Regions from separate parts of the Homo sapiens genome. Here region 2 is reported to be linked to region 1. The links are microRNA targets in miRTarBase. Many come from high-throughput screens and were not tested one by one. Region 1 holds a microRNA gene; the other region holds the end of a gene's coding sequence.
Evidence for each region. The annotated mature microRNA hsa-miR-502-3p reads AAUGCACCUGGGCAAGGAUUCA and lies in region 1 at 4,054-4,075, shown strand. An mRNA with a match to its seed (bases 2 to 7 or 8) in the 3' UTR can be bound and repressed. Matches are read on the target gene's strand: a 7mer-m8 pairs with bases 2 to 8, a 7mer-A1 pairs with bases 2 to 7 and ends in A, and an 8mer does both.

Region 1 (7,353 bases):
ACTAGGCAAGAACAGCAAGCCTTCTTGTTAGATGCACATGTGAGGTGTACAGGTACTGGAATCTCCTGTCCTGGTTCCCCCTCTCTAATCCTTGCTACCTGGGTGAGAGTGCTTTCTGAATGCAGTGCACCCAGGCAAGGATTCTGCAAGGGGGAGTGACATCTTCGCATAGGACAGAGCACTTCTACCTCCTCCTTCCATCCTTTCTATGACTATTTGTTGAGTACCTACCTACTCTATTGCAGGTGCTGTCCTGGGCAGTTGGCCCACAAGAGAATGAGCCATATCTGGTTCCCTACCTTCATGGAGTGTACAGTTCAGGGAGGAGAATGGACTCCTTCTCATTCATTATATCTGCATGTCCTGAGGGTGGGTGGGGTACAGGGTGGGTGGGGTACAGATACATGTTGGAGAATCTACTAAACCTCAGTACAATCACACATAAATACGCTGTGTGCAAGAGAAAGGGCCTGACTTGGTTACATCCACAGAGACATGTCCTCACAGAGTGGTCCCTCTGACCTGGTGCATCACTCACATTCTTTCAGCCTGTGTGCCAGTACTGCCTTGACTCACTGTCCCTTTTCAAGAATTCCAAGGGAAGAAGCCTTGTCTACACTTAAAAGGACAGAGCTTTTGCACATCAACTCTCCCTCCTCTTCCTTCCACAGATACTCAAGTGTCTATTAGACAGCAGGTATTATGTTCATCACCAAGGATATAGCAGGGATCAAAATGGACAGGTTGCTACCCTACATTCTGGTAGGGACTCATAAACACACTATACATAAATGTTGTGGATGAATAGGCCACTGTTCAAAAGAATGAAGTAGATCTATATGTTCCTTGTTACCCAGTCTGCATGCACAAGCATGTGCAGGTTCTGCTCAAGTGAAATTCTCAAATGTCCCCAATCCTTGTACACCAGACACACTCAGAGACATGGCCCTGCATGCAGAGAACCCCACCTACTGAAAGGGTAGGAGATGGAGCCTGTTGTGCTCTCCTCTCTCCCATTCTCAGCGTGCAAGCCAGTGAGCTTCCTTAACTCCCTTATAGATGGGGATTAAATGAGGGAAGTCTTCTTACTGCTACTTTCCTTCTTGCTGCTCTGTATAGGAGAGATCCTTTCATTACTTTTCTGTACAGTCACAGATGAACACACTATATGCGGTGAGCCTTCCCTGTAAACCCATGTGAGCACATGTGCACACACGCACACGTGCACACACACATACTCTGTATGGCTGCTTGGGCCTTCAGTCCTGTTCCCCCTCTTGAATCCTGGTACCTGGATGCAAGTGCTGTGTCAATGCGGTGCACCCAGGCAAGCATTCCACGGCTGAGCCTTTTCTGCATAGAGCGAAGAACACCTGTTTATAATCCCCATCCTTCATTCATTCCCACCTTTAACAAGCAGGGGTGGCGCTCCTGTCATGCACCAGACATGGAGAGACAGGGTGGTCAAGAAAGACACAGAACTCATACTCACATGCCTAGTGAGCATGTTTAAGAGAAGGAACTTCCGTTGCCCACATTGTTCATGCATACGTATGTAGCAGAGAGTGAGTCTTCCCATCATCCCCTCTCCAACCCCCCAACAGTGCTCAGCTAGAGAACTACAAAAGGTGTGTCTCCCCTTACACAGAGCTGCAGCCACAGTGTGCATAGGATAATGAGTGTCATTAGCAGCATCTTCTCACTCATGTCTGGTGTGCAAGGCAATAGGCTTTCTACTTGCTGCTTATGCCACCAGAGCTTGAAGGAAAGTGGCCCTACTTGTCAGTCATCTCACACATGCATATGAAGAAAAGACACTTCACCTTTGTATGGTCATAGGAAAATCACCTGTGAGCCAGAGAGTGCTGTTTCTTTTGTACATACACACAAACACAATGGATTTGAAGATGCTCGAGCCTTCTATTCAGGTTGTCCCTCTCTTTCATTCTTCGTAGTTGGGTACAAATGCTATTCCAGTCCATTGCCTTGTACAAAAATTCAGAGAGGGAATCTCATCCATGTTTAAAAGTGTAGAGTCTTTGCATCACCCCTCTATGTCCCATTATTTCATTTCTTTAAGTTATGTATAGAGCAGTGGTTCTCAGTGTGGTCCCTGGGCCAGCAGCATCTGTATCACCTAGGAGCTTGTTCAAAATGCCAATTCTTGGGCTCATCCCTGACCTACTACACCATAAACCATGGAAATCTGTACTTTACCAAGGCTCTCAACTGATTCTGATGCTCACTTAAGTTTGAGAATCACTGATTTAGTATAAGTGCTAGCTAGGGGCAGTGATAAGCTAGTCAGGTGAAGGGTGGAAGAGAATGAGCTCCTGCATTGCTCATGTACGTTCCCAATGCCGAGTCCATGCAGACTGTGGCAGGGAAGCCATCATTTCATTACTGTCTCCACCTCCTCCATAACCACACATTCAGTGAGCACATGAGGCTAAGTGAACACACAACAAGTACTTTATTAGGGAATAGACTTGGCACTGCTTCTCCAGGCGTGCACCTGACACTTTAATCTCAATCTGTCTCTCTCTCAATCAATCAATCAATCTCTCTCCTCTCTCTCTCTTTCTCTCTTTCTGTCTTTCTTTCTCTCTCCTCCCCCACCCCCCTCCCATGTGCAGAAGAATGAACTGCTCCTTCTCCCATACCCATTGCATATCGGAGTTGTGAATTCTCAAAACACCTCCTGTGTGCATGGATTACAGGAGGGTGAGCCTTGTCATCGTGAATCTTCTGCTGAACAATCCAAGTAGCCCGTGTTTATTGCGCACTTTTGATGTGCCATGAGCTGTGCTGGGAGTACCCTGCTAAATAATGGACAGTGTCTCTCTCCGGGACTTCCTATCTAGTGGAGGTATTAGGTGCCTAGACTTCCCCAGGCCTAGGCAACAGACACAGGTGTGTCAGGAATTGAGCCTTCTCATTCTCTTATGAATACACATGCTCACATTGTGCATGCATGTGCACACACACATGTGTAAGTGTAGAAACATTTCTGTACAAAGCTGAAAGGAAGGAGCCTTATTATCTAAACTTGCCTGCAAGTTTCCTTGCCACACACACTCAGATGCATGCCTGGTGTGCAGGTGCCTGGACTTTGATTTTTGCTTGCCCTCTCCTAGCCTTGCAGCCTAGGCACAAGTGCTGTCTTAGCAGTGCAATGGGCTTGTGCAAGGATACCAGCTTGTGAGCCTTGCCTATGTGTAGGACAGAGCCTGTCCATCCCTTCTCTTTCCTTTGTTCATTCTTTCAGTCAGTCATTTGTGTGTGCATGTTTTTGGTCCATTCATTTATTCATCCCTTTAACAAATTTACTGAATTCCTGCTGTTTGGGAATGCCACAGTAAACTAACCTGTCAGAGATGCCGACCTTACTGTCTAGCAGGCTCATGGAGAATAAGCATCCTCATGTCATCCAACTTCCTGTGAATACATGGGCTCAGGGTGCCAGAAATCAGGCTTTTCTTTATTCCCTCCCACAGACATGGGTACCTGTGCAAATATATGTGGTGTGCACATCCTGAGCCTGCTGCTCTGCTTCCCCTTGTATCCTTGCCACCTAAATGTGCATGCTGTCTCAGTGCAGCACCTATTCCAGGACTCTCAGAGGGGCCTTTTTCTGCCCATAGACAGACAAAGTGCCTGTGAGTCACACTTCCTCCTCCCTCTCCTTCCCCTCTACCTCCCTTTCACAAGTATTGAGCACTTAGTACATGCTAACGCTGTGCTGCCAGGGCAGTGGGCATATGGTATCACACAAGATGGACTTGGTTCTTGCCTCAAAGAATATGTGTAGGAGACTTGACTTTTTGTCACCTAATATTCCTGCACGTGCTGAGTTAGTGTGGGCCACAACATGGGACTTCTTATTGACACCCTCTCCCAACATATACACAATGCAAGACTCTCATTCCTGTTCTCACACAGAGCTGTGTAACAGAGAACCTTCTCTGCTTCGAGCACGGCAGGTGCCCAAGCCTTCTGCCCTGCTCCCCCTCTCTAATCCTTGCTATCTGGGTGCTAGTGCTGGCTCAATGCAATGCACCTGGGCAAGGATTCAGAGAGGGGGAGCTCAACTGTACCAAGAAGGACAGAGAGCCTAGACATCACCCCTCCCACCCTCCCCTGTCATAGTTTTTGAGTGATGGGTGTGTGTTGGGGAAGCACAGAACAGAATAGTTAGGGACTTCAGGTGCTCTGGTGGGCTTGTCTGTGTATTAGAATAAATGTCCTTATTAAATAATGTCCATGTATGCAGGTATCCAGAGTGAGACAGTGAGCTTTCTCTGTGTTCCCCACCTGCTGTCCACACACAGGGTGGTGGGCGGGAACCAGAGCCTTCTGATTTGCTCCCTCACTTCCTTCCAACCTAGATGTGAGTGCTGTCTCAAGTATTAAGCCAAGGATTCAATGAGATGGAGCCTTGCCTACCTATATGTATATATATGGACTGAGTGCATATATGTCTCTTTTCTTGCCTTCCTATATCTTGAGTTTCTAGAGTGTGACAGATACTCTTTTTAGTGTTAAGGATGCAGTGACAAACGAGAGTCAAAATCACTGGATGTGCTCTCTGATGGGCAGCTTTAGAAGAAAAATTCAGACGGGCACAAATGATGGGGGCCAAAGAGAGAGTCTTCCTATTCCCCCCACTCTGTCCCCTCTGAGGACAGGGAGATGCACACATTCATGAAGATTTACACTTACAGAATGTATAGGAGTTTGAGCTTATAAGCTGCCCTTTATCTTCCAGGACATCCTGAGTAGAACTGTGAGCTGCCTTTAGATGTCTATTACAGACTCTTCTTGAATTAGAGGGGGTGAAGAGCAAGGGACCCTTCTTATTGCTGATCTTGTATGCACCCCACACAATATGGAAATGAGAACAGCCTATATCTTTATATTACCTTACTTTAGTCAAATAGAGATGGACTATACATGTCTCTGTTTCAGTCTATCGCTCTCTCTGTCCGTCTCTCCATCTCTCTCTCTCTCTCACCTAGGGAGTACAGGTGCCCATGATCTGATTCACTCCCCTCCTCCCATCCTTAGCGCCTGAGCCTGAGTGCTTTCTACTGTGACCTCAGCAGTATTCTTCAGTTGTTACTCTCTTCTTAGCTAAGCTGATCTATTCATTCCTCCCCATCTTATCATTTTTGCTCATTGCCCATTGCAAATTTATAGTGTTCAGGTCAGCGTAGCAATACAGTATTATAAATAGTGGTGACAGAGACAGAAAGAGACACACACTCCATTTCAGTCCTCAAGTTCTTAAACATTTGGGACTTATAGATTCTGATCCTTGGTCCTTCTTCTCTCCCAGATTCTCCCAATCTAACCTGCAGTAAAGATTCAGGTTATTTAATATGTGCTCCTTATCTTTTGTATACTCTAAAATCTCATTTTGGTTACTGCTCAGCCTTAGTCTTATTTTATCAGACTTTATACCTCTCTTGATGCCCAAGACTAGCAGCATCAGCATCCTCCAGGAACTTGTTAGAAATAAACTCTCAGGCCTCACCTCAGACCTAGGTAATCAGAAAGTCAGGGGTGGGGCCCAGCAATCTGTGTTTTAACAGCCCTCCAGGTGATTCTGATGCACACTGAAGTTTGAGAACCATTGGTTTAAATGACTTAAAATTTCTATTCTGTCATTACTAGGGGGATTTCTGTGTTACACAGGATGATTTTTAGCATCAAAATTTCCTTATGTGTAAATGGCTCTTTTAGTTTCTTTTCATATTTTAAAAATTCATAGACTTTTTTGAGCAGTTTTAGGTTTACAAAAAGATTGAATGGAAAGTATAGAGTTGTTATATATTCTCGAGACACCCCAGTTTCCGCTATTAACATCTTGCATGAGTGTTGTACACTTGTTAAAATTGATGGGCTAATGTTGAGACATTATTATTAAATAATAGTATAATTATAATGTATTATAACTATTATTAAATAATAGTTTAAATATAATTATTAATGTAAACCATAGTTTACATTAGAGTTCCCTCTTTGTGTTATATACTCTATGGGTTTTGACAAGTGTATAATGACATGCATGACCATTATAGTATCATACAGAATAGTTTCACTGCCCTAAAATTCCTCTGAGTTCTGCCTATTTATCCCCCCTCCCCCACCCTAAACCCCTGGCAACCGCTGATCATTTTTCTGTCTCCATAGTTTAGCCTTTTCCAGAATGTCATATAGTTAGAATCATACATTATGCAGCCTTTTCAGAATGGCTTATTTTACTTAGCACTATGCATTTAAGGCTCCTCATATCTTTTCATGACTTGATAGCTCATTTCTTTTCTTTCATTTTTTTCCCCATTTATCCCATATAGTAACCAGCTTATTTCTTTTTATCACTGCATAGTATTCCATTGTCTGGAGGCACAAAGTTTATTTATCCTCACCCACTGAAGGGCAGCTTGGTTCCTTCTACATTTTGGCAATTATGAATAAAGCTGCTATAAACGTTTGTGTGCAGGATCTTGTATGGACATAAGTTCTCAACTCACTTAAGTAAAATACCAGGAAGTGTTGCTGGATCATATGGTAAGACTATGTTTAATTTTGTAAGAAACCACCAAACTGTCCTCCAAAGTGGCTGTACCATTTTACATTTCCATCAGCAGTGAACGAGAGTTCCTGTTACTCCATATCCTCATCAACATTTGGTTTTGTTAGTGTTTTGGATTTTAGGCATTCTAATAGGAATGTTTTCTTATCCTTGAGCTTAAAGAGTTTCTTACTTATTTTAGATACAATCCCTTTCTAAGATATGTCTTTTGCAAATATTTTTCCCATGTGTGATTTGCTTTTACATTCAATTAACAGTGGCTTTTGCAGAGCAGAAGTTTTTAATTATAATGAAGTCCAGTCTATCAATTTTTTCTTTCATGGATCATGCTTTTGGTGTTGTATCTAAAAGGTCACCACCAAACCTAAGATCACTTAGATTTTAGCCTACATTATTTTCTAGGAGTTTTATAGTTCTGTGTTTTACATTTAGGTCAGTCATCTATTTTGAGTTAATTTTTGTGAAAGTTGAAGACCTACCTCTAGATTCATTTTTTTTTTTGCATGTTCATGTCCAGTTGTTTCAGTACCATTTATTGAAAAGAATATATTTGTGTCATTGTATTGCCTTTGCTCATTTGTCAAAGATCCATTGACTATATTTTTGTGGGTATATTTCTGGATTTGTTCTGTTCTATTGATCTATATTCTTATGCCATTATTACACTGTCTTGATTATTGTAGCTTTATAGTAAGCCTTGAAGTTGGATAGTGTCAGTCTTCCAGGTTTGTTCTTCTCTTTCAAAATTGTGTTGG
Region 2 (7,349 bases), not on the chromosome of region 1:
GGTCTCCTGACTCCCCACAAGGTTTCTTGTCACTGAGGTCTGCTGTGGGTGATCAGAACTGATTATCGGGCACCTGCCCTGTTCTGAGCCTGGGTCAGCAGGATGGGAGCTTCTTAGAGGCCACATAGCCTTGAATGGTTGAGAGCTGAGCCAGGGTGTCGGCTGAGGTCTACTTGGCTTGCCTGCTTTGATCCTGAGAGCCACCCACCCCATCTCACAGTGAATAGGTTGGCAGGTGTGGGCTGGCGGGTGGACTACACCCTGAGCTCCAGCCTGCTGCAATCCGTGGAAGAGCCCATGGTGCACCTGCGGCTGGAGGTGGCAGCTGCCCCAGGGACCCCAGCCCAGCCTGTTGCCATGTCCCTCTCAGCAGACAAGTTCCAGGTCCTCCTGGCAGGTGAGGCTCAGCTATTCCTCGACGGGTGAGAGGCTCTCCCAGATCCGCCTGACTGCCTCCCACCTGCCCACCTCTTCCCTCTGCAGAACTGAAGCAGGCCCAGACCCTGATGAGCTCCCTGGGCTGAGGAGAAGGGTGTTCCAGGCCTGTGTGGAGCCGCCCTGCCCGTATGGAGTCACGCCCTCTGAACTGCTCTTCGGGAGGCAGCCCTGGTTCTAGGATGCTGAGGCCCTGGCCCGGACTCTGGCCTCCCAGATCCCCAGCTGCCTCACTTCTCTCTTGAGAACTTGGCTCAGGGCTCCTGAGGACCTTTCCCAGCATTACCTTCCCTTCCCTTGAAAGGCAATTGTTGGCTGTTTTCATAAGCAGGAAAAATAAACAGAAGTATAAAGGAATGTGTGCAGGGGGTTCTGTTTGGGTTCAGATCAAGGGTTTTTGTGAGAGAAACACAAGTGACATACAGGCCTTCTTGGTCCATCACTCATTTTCTTTTCTCAATTGCTGATTGAGGGAGGTCATAGGTAAGGCCAACTGAGGACCAAAATGCATCTGCTTGTCTGGTGAGAAGAAAATCAGGGTTCTAGCTCCCAGATCTGGGATGCTCTTGGCTCTGCTGTCTTTGCCCCCTGGCCATGTCCTCAGGCTAGCAGCACGTTGGTGGCCCCAAAGCCAAATGCCCCTTGTACAGAAAGGAGATTGCCCTTGTTTCACTGCCATCTTCTATTTATTTATTTATTTATTTAGAGACGGAGTTTCGCTCCTCTTGCCCAGGTTTCACTGCCATCTTGTTATTTATTTATTTTGAGATGGTACAGTGGCGTGATCTTGGCTCACCACAACCTCTGCCTCCTGGGTTCAAGCAATTCTTCTGCCTCAGCTGCCCGAGTAGGTGGGATTACAGGCATGCCCCACTACTCCCGGCTAATTTTGTTTTTTTTTTTTTTTTTCAGTAGAGATGAGGTTTCTCCATGTTGGTCAGGCTGGTCTCGAACTCCTGACCTCAGGTGATCCACCCACCTTGCCCTCCCAAAGTGCTGGGATTACAGGCGTAAGCCACTGCGCCCAGCCACTGCCATCATCTTTAGGAAGAGAGAAGTGACCATGCCTGAACCAGTCATTGGCAAGAGGAACGGTGTTATGGACTGAATGTTCATGTTCCTCCAGAATTCATATGCTGAAGCCTCTGTCCACACATGCACACCAGATGAGGGCCATGTGCGCACACGAGGTGGCTGTCTACAAGGCCAGAAAGAGGGCTGTCAACAGGAACTGCGTCTGCTGGCACCTTGATCTTGAACTTCCCAGCCTCCAGAACTGTGAGAAAGAAATCTCTATGGTGTAAGCCACTAGTCTGTGGCATTGTTATAGCAGCTCGAGAAGACTAAGGCAGATGGGCTTCCAGGACTGGCCCAGACCAGCCAGGGCTCCTTGTAGAAAAGGCTGATGCCAGGGTTGGCACATGGAGGGTACAAGGAGGACTCGCCTGGAGTATCTTAAGGAACCTATCGAAGAATAATGGCTTGTTCCACTGGCCAAAGATGGGACAATTTGAACATCAAAAGAGATACTTACTGACTCCACTCCTGACTTCTGCTTCTGAAAAAATGAAGTAGGTGTTTTCCCTATTCCTCCCACTAAGTACAGTTAACAACCCTGGATGTTACATATAAAACAAACAAAAAGACTCCGAGCGATGGAGAGAAGGCACCCTAGCCTGGCTGGGATCCTCAGGACCTGAGGCTCCACAGAGAGAAATTCCTGGAATCTGGACCCCATGGCCCAGTCAGGTTACACAAAACTGATCATCACAGATCTGTAGAACTATACAAAAGTGCTAACATTCATGATTAGGGTCTCAGAAGGTAAGGAGGAAGAGAGTGGAATGGAAAAAGTATTCAAAAAAATAATCACTAAAGGCCAGGTGCAGTGGCCCATGCCTGTAATCCCAGCACTTTGGGAGGTGGGACAATTGCTTTAGACCTTGCAACTGGCCTGAGCAACACAGGGAGACTCAGTTTCTCCAAAAAAATAAAAAATTAGCCGATCATGGTGGTGCGTGCTTATAGTCTCAGCTACTCAGAAGGCTGAGGCAGGAGGATCAATCGCTTGAGCCCAGGGGTTTGAGGCTGCAGTGAGCTGTGATCATACCTCTGCACTCCAGCCTGGATAACAGAGCTGAGACCCTGTCTCAAAAAAAAAAAAAAAAAAAAAAAAAAAATGTATATATACACACATTGGAATATTTTTCAGCCCTTAAAAAGCAGAAGGTTCTGTCATTTGTGACTTGGATGAACCTAGACGACATGATGCTAAGTGAAATAAGCCAGGCACAGAGAGACAAATACCTCGTCACCTCACTTATGCCTGGAGTTGAAAAAAGGGCCTGGGGCAGTGGCTCACGCCTGTAATCCCAGCACTTTGGGAAGCCAAGGTGGGAGGATCACTTAAGCCCAGGAGTTCGAGACCAGGCTGGGCAACATGGCAAACCTGTCTCTACAAAAAGTAAAAAAATTAGCCGGGTGCAGTGGCACATGCCTGTGGTTCCAGCACTTGGGAGGTTGAGGTGGGAGGATTGCTTGAGCCAGGGCGGTCAAGGCTGCAGTGAACCATGATAGTGCCCCTGCACTCCAGCCTGGGTGACAGTGAGACCCTGTCTCAAAAAAAAAAAGTTAAATTCATAGAAGTCGACAGTAGAATGGTGGTTAGCAGAGGCTGGAGGAGAGAGAGGGTGGGTTGTGGGGAAAAGGGGAGACACCGGTCAAAAGGTACAAAGTTCCAGTTAGGAGGAGTACATTCTGGTGATTTATTGCCCAGCGTGGTGACCAGTTAATAATGATGTATACTTCAAAATAGCTAAAAGAGGGTTTTAAATGTTCTCATCACAAAGAAATAAATATTTGAGGTAATGGATATCCTAATTAGCCTGATTTGATCTTTTTTTGTGTTTTTTGTTTTCTTGAGACAGAGTCTCACTCTGTTGCCTAGGCTGGAGTGCAGTGGCGTGATCTTGGCTCACTGCAACCTCCGCCTCCCGAGTTCAAGTGATTCTCCTGCCTCAGCCTCTGTAGTAGCTGGGACTACAGGCATGCACCACCACCCCTGGCTAATTTTTTGTATTTTTTGTAGAGACTGGGTTTCACTATGTTGGCCAGGCTGGTTTTAAACTTCTGACCTCAGGTGATCCGTCTGCCTCGGCCTCCCACAGTGCTGGGATTACAGGCATGAGCCACCGTGCCCAGCCGATTTGATCATTCCACAATATATGCATGTAACAAAACATCACACTGTACTCCATAAATTTATACAATTATTATTTGTCAATTAAAAATAAAACTATAGATAAGTCAAACTGGTATTCTAAAAAATGCTCCACCAGCCACAGTTGGGCAAGAAGAAGCAAAAATGAAAACTGGGAATAAACAAAGTGATAAAAAAATCACAAGGAGACTATCCTTGGCAACATGGCAAAACCCCATCTCTACAAAAAAATACAAAAATTAGGTGTGGTGGTATGCACCATTGTCCCAGCTACTCAGGAGGCTGACGTTGGAGGATCACCTGAGCTCAGGAGTTCGAGGTTGCAGTGAACCATGATCATACCACTGCACTCCAGCCTTGAGTGACAGAGTGAGATCCTGTCTCAAAAAAAATAAAAAAGAGGTTATCCTGTCTTTTTAGTCAGGATAACCAAATAGCCCTGGTCAATGAGGTAAAGCTATACTTGACAGATGGATTCTATCAAATATATTAAGAATGACAATTAGAAAATCACTTTGAGGCTGGACACGGTGGCTCACGCCTGTAATCCCAATACTCTGGGAGGCCAAGGCAGGTGGATCGCTTGAGGTCAGGAGTTTGAGACTAGTCTTGGCAACGTGGTAAAACCCTGTCTCTACTAAAAATACAAAAAATTAGGCATGGTGGCCCCCACCTGTAATCCCAGCTACTGGGAGGTCGAGGCTGCAGTGAGCCGAGATTGCACCATCGTTCTCTAGCCTGGGCAACAGAGTGAGACCTGTCTCAAAAACAACAATAAAAACCTAAAACTTTATTTTCTTTTGAGACAGGATCTCAAAGCGAACTTTCGTATTTTTAGTAAAGACGGGGTTTCACCATGTTGGCCAGGCTGGTCTTGAACTCCTGGCCTCAAGTGATTCACTCCCCCCTCGGCCTCCCATAGTGTTGGGATTTCAGGCATCAGCCACTGCGCCTGGCCAAAAACCCAAAACTTTATATTCATTGAATAGCAACTACCCATTTCCTCCTTCCCGGCAGCTCCTGGCAACCACCATTCTACTTGCTGCTTCTGTGTGTTTAACTGTTTAGGTACCTGATATAAGTGGAACCATGAAGTATTTGTCTTTCTGGGGTTTTTTTGCTTGTTTGTTTTATGAGACAGAGTCTCGCTCTGTTGCCAGGCTGGAGTGCAGTGGCACGATCTCAGCTCACTGCAACCTCTGCCTCCTGGGTGCAAGCAATTCTCCTGCCTCAGCCTCCCAAGTAGCTGGGACTACAGGTGCCCGCCACCACACCTGGATAATTTTTGTATTTTTATTAGAGACGGGGTTTCACCATGTTGGCCAGGATGATCTCGATCTCCTGACCTCGTGATCCACCCGCCTTGGCCTCCCAAAGTGTCGGGATTATAAGCGTGAGCCACTGTGTCCAGCCTAAGTATTTGTCCTTCTGTGACCAACTTATTTAGTGCAATGTCTTCGAGGTTACCCATGTTGTTGCATGTGGCAGTATTTCCTTTTTTTAAAGGCTGAATAATATTCCATCATATACCACATTTTTTTTAGGGGGGCAGGGATGGGGATAAGGTTTCACTCTGTCATCCAGGCTAGAGTGCAGCAGCATGATCACAGTTCACTGTAGCCTCTGACTCCCAGGCTCAAGCAGTCCTCCAACCACAGCCTCTGGAGTAGCTGGGACTACAGATGCATACCACTATGCTAATTCTTTTCTTATATAGAGATGGAATCTCCCTATGTTGACCAGGCTGGTCTTGAACTCGTGGGCTCAAGCAGTCCTCCTGTCTTGGCCTCCCAAAGGGCTGAGATTACATGCATGAGCCACCATGCCCAGCCTATTATATATCACATTTTAAAAAATCCATGTATCGGTTGGTTGTTTCCACATCTTGGGAATAATGCTTCAATGTGTGTTATCTCTTCATTGGGGTGGCAGTTACATGACTATGTGTTTGTCAAATATTGCAGTCTGAAAGGGGTAAATTTTACTATATGTAAATTATACCTTTATTTAAACAAGAGAACAACAAAGAAATTACTCCATAGATTATTTGGTGTTCACAAGGTATGAACCATATGTTTTCTAATGCAGAGGTCTGGCTGCCACAGCCCCTGTCTTGATCAGTTTCAGCTCCCAATAAAGTGGGACAATGAGATATTGGGTGCCTCCTGATATGATGCAATTCAAAGTACAGAGCAGTGGCCAGGCGTAGTGGCTTATCCCTGTAATCCCAGCACTTTGGGAGGCCGAGGCAGGCAGATCACCTGAGGTCAGGAGTTTGAGACCAGCCTGGCCAACATGGTGAAACCCCGTCTCTACTAAAAATACAAAAATCAGCTGGGAGTGGTGGCATATGCCTGTAGTCTCAGCTACTCAGGAGGCTGAGGCAAGAGAATCACTTGAACCTGGGAGGCAGAGGTTGCAGTGAGCCAAGATCGTGCCACTGCACTCCAGTCTGGGTGACAGAGCAAGACTCCATCTCAAATAAAACAAAACAAAACAAAAAACAACGAAGTACAGAGCAGCACCTAGGAAGTATCCCTGAATATTTATATAATCAAGCCTTTAGATCTAATTCCCAGCATGCAGGATGAACCACAGATAGAGGACCAATCTCTGTGACAATATCAGTGACACCCTGAGGATACATTCAGACAAATTGAGAATGTGATGCAGCATCTATCTCAAACAACAACTGGCTGAGACTCTTCAGAAAGGTATCATGAAGATAAAAGAAGGGGATGAAGTGGGTGGGAGAGGGAAGGTGGTTTCATCTAGATTTAAAATTATTAAAAAGATATAATCCAGCCAGGCGCGGTGGCTCACGCCTGTAATCCCAACACTTTGGGACCCCGAGGTCGGGGGATGGCTTGAGCCCAGGAGTTTGAGGCTGGCCCAGGCAACATAGTGAGACCACATCCTTACAAAACATGAATTAGCCAGGCGTGGTGGTGTGTGCCTGTAGTCCCAGCTACTTGGGAGGCTGAGGCTGAGGATCACTTGAGCCCGGGAGGTCGGAGGCTGCAATGACCCATGATTGTAGCCTGGGGGACAGAGTGAGACCCTGTCTATATGTGTATATATATATATATTTGGGACAATTGGGGAAATCTGGATGTGGACTAGCTATTAGATGATATTAAGAAGTTACTGTTGGCTGGGCATGGTGGCTCACTTCTGTAATCCCAGCACTTTGGGAGGCCGAGGCGGGCAGATTACTTGAGGTCAGGAGTTCAAGACCAGCCTGGCCAACAAGGCGAAACCTCATCTCTACTAAAAATATGAAAATTAGCCAGGCATGTGGCACACGCCTGTAATCCCAGTTACTCGGGAGGCTGAGGCAGGAGAATCACTTGAACCCGGGAAGTGGAGGCTGCAGTGAGCCGAGATTTCACCACCGCACTCCAGCCTGGGTGACACAGTGAGACCCTGTCTCAAAAAAAGAAGTTACTGTTAACTAATTTCTAATAACTTAGATATTATTAGATATTGTCAACTAATATCAAGTTGTTAATTCTATTCATTTATTATGGCAGAAGTATTTTAAAGTAAATTAGACAAATCATGACATTTCATACCCAATACTTTAACATGCATCTCTAAAAACCAATTTCTTACAAAGCCACATAATTTTATTACGCCTAATAAGGAGACGTAGCAGGGTAGTGTGAAGGAGGGGAAATCGTGGCGATGGGTT

Region 2: the mRNA of COMMD4 is a reported target of hsa-miR-502-3p. The part of its 3' UTR that is shown has no 7-base or 8-base seed match.

Annotation. Positions count from the first base shown.
Region 1 is chrX:50,010,596-50,017,948 of GRCh38, forward strand. It overlaps MIR502 (microRNA 502), which reads left to right and starts at 4,003; the gene lies at 4,003-4,088. The region is part of intron 3 of CLCN5 (chloride voltage-gated channel 5); the gene reads left to right. It overlaps MIR660 (microRNA 660), which reads left to right and starts at 2,646; the gene lies at 2,646-2,742. It overlaps MIR500B (microRNA 500b), which reads left to right and starts at 77; the gene lies at 77-155.
Region 2 is chr15:75,339,482-75,346,830 of GRCh38, forward strand. COMMD4 (COMM domain containing 4) reads left to right here. Exons shown (of 8, transcript NM_017828.5): 7 at 221-397; 8 at 484-792. The coding sequence ends at 524. Among named protein-coding and RNA genes, the nearest start is that of NEIL1, 3.9 kb to the right of the region's middle. RefSeq lists an enhancer at 7,310-7,349.